Linked DNA regions of Homo sapiens: region 2 is linked to region 1. Evidence: fine-mapped expression QTL. A gene starts in region 1. The other region holds a variant in brackets. All regions are shown on one strand. Distances are between the middles of the regions. Region 1 holds the start of WDR86 (WD repeat domain 86). Region 2 overlaps WDR86 (WD repeat domain 86).

Region 1 (2,750 bases):
CCTTGAAAGTTAAGCTTTTCTCCTGGTGGTTCTTTCCTCTGGCCCACGACCAGGCAAGCTCGCCCAACCTACGATCTGTCCCCAGCTCCCAAACTGCTTTCAAACCCCTCCCCTCTTAGTTTCCAAAAGAGTCGATGCCTGGTTCTCCTTGGCCCCTCTGCCCAGAAAGTTTGGGTTTCCTCTGGCACTTCTCCGGATAAACCCTCCCAGCCTCCATGGTCCTCACATTCACCTTCCCCAAGGGCTGCAGCCGCAGGGCCTGCCCAAGATCCCCACTATACCGAGTCTGTCCTCACCTGGAGGCCACACCGCAGTTTCACACCTGGATGTGCAATGGGCCCCCTGAGGTTCACCGGTTCCTAAGAGGAACTGGTGATCAGCCTGTAGGGGACAAAACAGTCTACCCAGCCTCTCAGCACAAGACAGGCTCCCCGGCCTCTCCCGCCTCGCAGGCATCCAAATGCTGAAGCCTCCACCTCCTGAAAACGTCTCTCCTTTCGGCCTCCCTCTCTCCGGCTGGATGACCCCAAATCTCGTCCTAACGCTCCTCCACTGCCCCTCTCTCCACCACCTGCTAAGGAAGGGCCACGCTCCTTAAGCTGAGGCGCCAGCTGCTTTACAAGTTTTGAGGGAAAAGAACGGATTTCTCTGGTTAGGCCACTCTGGGTATAAACGACCCAACGGCCTGGGACACCCCACGATGGGGTTTTCTTTTGGAGTCTGGATAGAGCAGAGCGTGCAGTACTGGTCGTCCCATTGCGGGCTAGCTCGCCAAAGACGCCCCTTCCTTGCCCTTCTCCCTAGGCTCCTGAGAGAGCCCTGGAGCGTTCTGGAAATCCTGCTACCTTTAGGACCTGGGGGATCCGAGTAGGGGGGTCACCTTCCCCGTCCCCAGCGAAGTCGGCGCCGGAACTGCCCTAATGGAAACCAGCCGCCGGGCGCTCCGGGAGGGCTCAGGCCGACCCCGGGGTCCATTAGAGGCGCCCCAGGCCGAGGGAGCCCGCGGCGGCTGGAAGGTGAACTTGACATCCCGGCTCCACCGACCCCGCAGCGGCTCGCACCTCATCCCCACTCCGGCCAGACCAAAGTAGAATCCTGGGTGTGCGCGTGATTTCCCAGGGAGGGCGGACTCGGGGCTTTCCCTGTCGCACCCTCCATTGGGGGACCGCCCCCAAGTCCCCGAGAGCCCCTCGGGCAGAGTCCTTAGGGCTCAGAGCATGGGAGGACCTGGCTTGCCTGGTGGAGGCGAGTAGCCGAGGGGTCGGTGGAGCTGCGCCCCAAATGAGTTCCCGGCGCGCGATTCTCCCCGACCCCGACCCTTTGTCCGCCTCCCCCTCCCTCGTCCCGGCCCTTGGCTCAGGGGACCCAGGCGGCGGCGGCGGAGGTGGCAGAGGCCAGAGCCCAGAGGCGCAGCCCGGGCAGCTAGGAGGGTCGCACGTGGAGCCGTCCCCCGGACCCGCACAGCGACGAAGGGGGGAGGCTGCAGGCGCGCGGGGTGGGGGCTGGGGCGCAGCCCGAGAAGTGGGAGGGGATCGGGTGAGGGGTGGTCTCTGAGGAGGAGCCAGGCTGGACCGTATTGTTCCGCGCTCGGCCGGGGAGGGCGCGGGGCGCTCGGCTTCCCGTGTTCCTCTCCCCGCCCCAGCCCCGTGGGCGCGAGAGGAGGCGGGGGGCTCCTTGTGCACCAGAGACGCAGCTGCCTTGTTCGCCCGGTGGGGTGTGGATCCTCCGAGCGGTGCTGGGAAGGGGGTTCTCTCTGCCCGCGCGCCCAGGACTCTACCCAGGGCGGAGGTCCCGAGTGGGCCGCCCCCCGCAGCGCCCTGGGTTCGCGGGCCCAGAGGCTGGAGGCAGCGGGGAGCTAGGGTCCTTCACCCTCCCCTCGCCGCGTGCCTCCGCAGGAGTCGGGCTCCCCGTTCCCCGCGATGGCCGCGGGCCGCAGTCGTACGGAGCCGCCGCGCGGACCCCGGGGCGCCCCTCCCTAGCGGGGCGCAGCTCCTTCTTGTTCCCCGCCCTGCCAGCGGGATGGGGGGCGGCGGGTCGGCCCTGAGGGTCTGCGCCGACCACCGCGGGGGCATCAACTGGCTGAGCCTGAGCCCCGACGGGCAGCGCCTGCTGACGGGCAGCGAGGACGGCACGGCCCGGCTCTGGAGCACCGCGGACGGCCAGTGCTGCGCGCTCCTGCAAGGTAGACCCTCCCACTCCCTCCCTGACCTCTTCGCCGCAGCTCACCGGCCCCAGACCGCGGACCCCAGCTCCTGCGCCCGCAGACCCCTTTCTAGAAGTCCAGCCCCCGCTCATCCCGGCACACTAGCGGAAGAGCGCTTGTCTGGGCCCAGCATCTGGCTGTTGAGCGCACGGCAGGGCAGGGTGAGGTCTGGGGGTGGGGTGCGGGTGCAGAGCAGGGTGCGGCCGGGATCGGGTGGGTGGGTCGAGGGGCGTCCGCTACAAAGGCGAAGATCATTTGTCAACCAGCGGCAGGAAATCTCCCTTGACAACAATGTTAACAAACAAAAAGTTGCACCTATACTCCTTCTAAGCAAACCTTCCCTTGTCTCTAGGTGCCTTGTGGCCTCTTTGTGGCCAATTGTGCTCTTCTGCTGGCATTTCCTGTTGACGACTCTCACAGCAACAGTAGACGCTTGTTAAGGGCCAGCGGTGCGGAGAAGTGTGCCGTCGTCACACTATGTTACCCCACATACAGACGTGGAAACAGGCTGGGAGTTAAGTAATTCGCCCAGGTCGCACAGCCAGTG
Region 2 (3,000 bases), 28 kb after region 1:
TTCAAGTTGACCTCACAGCAAAGGTGTTGGATGAAGACAGAATGTAGATATCTGAAAATAGATCCTGACATGCCCTCAGGATTCAGGTGTCTGACACAGAAAAATTATTTTTCGTTTGTTCCTGTGTCCAAGGCTGGAAGTGTGGTTACGGCTCTGTTCCCAAGTCTGGGTCCTCTAATTGAACACGAGGAAGGTTCCACTCTCAAAGGCTCTGGCCGGCGGCCGCCTAGAACACCTCCCCGTGCAGCCGGGGCATGGAGCCCGCAGGGAAAGCGAAGCCTGCAGCTCACTGTTGCCCAGCTCGGTTCTTGGTCTTGGCCAGCAAGGCTATGGGATGATCAGACTTTGTTTTTGATCCTCTTCCCACCCGCGGGGAGCTCAGCAGCCACACTGGGTTTTCCAGGCCATGTCCATTTGTCTGAGTTTGTGGGGGGAAGGCAGAAAGGGGCTGAAAAGAGACCCAGAAATGAAACTTCCCCTCTGGGGCCATTCACTCTGTAGTTTTAACAAAAAGGCTGGAACAGGCTGGGCACCGTGGCTCATGCCTGTAATCCCAGCACTTTGGGAAGCCAAGGCGGGAGGATCTCTTGAGCTCAGTAGTTCAAGACCAGCCTGAGCAACATAGCAAGACCCTGTCTCTACAAACATTTTTTTTTTTTTTTTTTTGAGACGGAGTCTTGCTCTGTGGCCCAGGCTGGAGTGAAATGGCGCAGTCTAGGCTCACTGCCACCTCCACTTCCCAGATTCAAGTGATTCTCCTGCCTCAGCCTCCTAAGTAACTGGGACTACAGGTGTGTGCCACCACACCCAGCTAATTTTTGTATTTTTAGTAGAGACAGGGTTTCACCATGTTGGCCAGGCTGGTCTCAAACCCCTGATCTCATGATCTGCTCTGCCAGCTTCAGCTTCCCAAAGTGCTGAGATTACAGGCGTGAGCCACTGTGCCCAGCTCCCCCCCCCCACCCCGCCGCCCCGTTTTTTTTAAAATTAGCTGGGTGTAGTGGTGCATGCCTGTGGTCCCAGCTGCTCAGGAGGCTGAAGCGGGAGGATCGTTTGAGCCCAGGAGTTCAAGGTTAACAGTGAGCTAAGATGGTACCACTGCACTCCAGCCTCGGCAACAGAGTGAGACCCTGTCTCCCTGTAAGAAAAAAAAAAAAAAAGGCTGGGGAACAAGTACCCACAGAGCACCCTCAGATAGATAGGTAGCCCAGCACCCTTACCCTCAGGTGGTCCTACCCCTTTTCCCCAAGGTCCCTGGCAGGCTTGCACCATAGCTGCCCACCGTAGTTACCTGCTCATTGACAGACCCCACAGGACTTCCTCCCTCCCTTTCCATCTCCCATTTCCCTGTGAGCGTTTCCTGGGACGCCTGCCAGGTGAACTGTCTGCATCAAGTCCTAGCATCAGGGTCGGCTTCGGAGAGCCCAGCCTAGGCCAAGTGAGTTCTTCTAGTCCACATCCTCAGTGTGGCCTCCTGACTAGCAGCAGCATCACTTAAAACTGGTTAGAAATGCCGATTCTCAGGCCCCGCCTGCTAAATCAGATTCTGGGATGCGGCCCCGCGATCTGTGGCTAAGACCTCCAAGTGACGGATGCAAATGCAGGTTGCAGTTGGAAAACGATTGGACTGAAATCTTAGGAGAAACCCCAGGGAGAGGCAGCCACCTGGGGGAGGAGACAGACTGAGGTCGGAGGCTCGCCCCC[G/A]CTAGGGGTCCCGGGGGTGCGTGATCATGAACCCCAGAGGGCTGGGCTTTGATTTGAGTGCCGATCCGTTAATGAGGACGGGAGGATAAGGTTGCCGACGCAGCGGAAGGTAGGGGGGAAGCGACTCGAGGACCTGACGATTATCCCCAGGCAGGGGCTTCCCAAGCAGGCACGGAAACCAACTTCACCAAACCGCGGAGTGGGGACTGGGCCCGGGCGGTGTTCAGCAGGGCAGGGGCAGGGCCAGCTGGCGCGCAGGCATCTGCAGGGTGGAGCAGAATAACCGTGGGGACCCGTTTCTCTGGAGGGGCACTGTCCACTTCCCATATGAGCCTCAGGATACCCCCGTGGGGCGGAGTCTCGGAGACGCCCCAGGTCACGCTCTCGCCGCCCCATCCCTGCTTGCGGGGGGCCGAGCAGGGAGGGAGGCCCAGCGCGCGCTGTGTGTCCGCAGTGTTCACGGGCAGCGGGGACGCTTGCGCCCGGGCCTTCGACGCGCAGTCTGGAGAGCTGCGGAGGGTGTTCCGGGGCCACACATTCATCATCAACTGCATCCAGGTAGGTCCCTCTGCCCTTCTCGGGGCCGCCGCCCGTGGGAGGGAAGGTGCCCCGCCCCGATCCATCCACGCGGGCAGCGGTGTCCCCCCCGCCTACCGCGTCACCGGTGACGCCCGCCCCTGCGCCCGCAGGTGCACGGCCAGGTGCTCTACACCGCCTCGCACGACGGCGCCCTGCGCCTCTGGGACGTGCGCGGGCTCCGAGGTGCCCCGCGGCCCCCTCCGCCCATGCGCAGCCTCTCGCGGCTCTTCAGCAACAAGGTGGGCTGCGCCGCCGCGCCCCTGCAGCCGGCCTGATCCCGCGGGGCCCCTGCAGACGCCAGCCCAGACACCCAGCGGCTCCCAGAGCGCCCCGCCCTGCTACCCGCGGTGGTGGCGCCCGATGGCCGGCGAGGGGCGAGGAGCGAGGAAGCCCGGGCGGGAGGAGAGCCCGTCGCAGGCGTCTGGTTTTTCTTTGGTGGCCAGGAGGCGCTGGGAGCGGGAGTGCTCGCCCTGGGGACCGCCCCCTTTTCCCTTTTAGGGTGGCTCCTGTCCTCCCTCCCCATCCCTGACCTGGCGAAAGGCCTAGTCCTGGGGACCCTCCCACCTCAGGGGCTGCAGGCGGACTGCCCCAGCTCCCCCAGCCCCACGAAACTGGGCCTTTCCTGCTGAGAGGAAGTGACTTTTTACAGAAGCCACTGAACCTGGTTATTTTGGCAAATCGTCCGTCTCGAGGGCCTTGGGGGGAACTGAAATATAC

The links.
Region 2: its variant is fine-mapped to the expression of WDR86 in whole blood (INTERVAL, PIP 0.97).

The regions. Positions count from the first base shown.
Region 1 is chr7:151,408,859-151,411,608 of GRCh38, reverse strand. WDR86 (WD repeat domain 86) reads left to right here and starts at 1,571. Exons shown (of 6, transcript NM_198285.3): 1 at 1,571-2,182. The coding sequence starts at 2,020. WDR86-AS1 (WDR86 antisense RNA 1) reads right to left here and starts at 2,448. Exons shown (of 6, transcript NR_109857.1): 1 at 2,227-2,448; 2 at 297-381. RefSeq lists an enhancer at 373-1,005.
Region 2 is chr7:151,381,140-151,384,139 of GRCh38, reverse strand. It overlaps WDR86 (WD repeat domain 86), which reads left to right. Exons shown (of 6, transcript NM_198285.3): 5 at 2,159-2,262; 6 at 2,394-3,000. The coding sequence ends at 2,558. Among named protein-coding and RNA genes, the nearest start is that of WDR86-AS1, 27 kb to the left of the region's middle. RefSeq lists silencers at 2,354-2,593, 2,614-2,773. The variant G/A (reference allele first, on the strand shown) is at 1,705.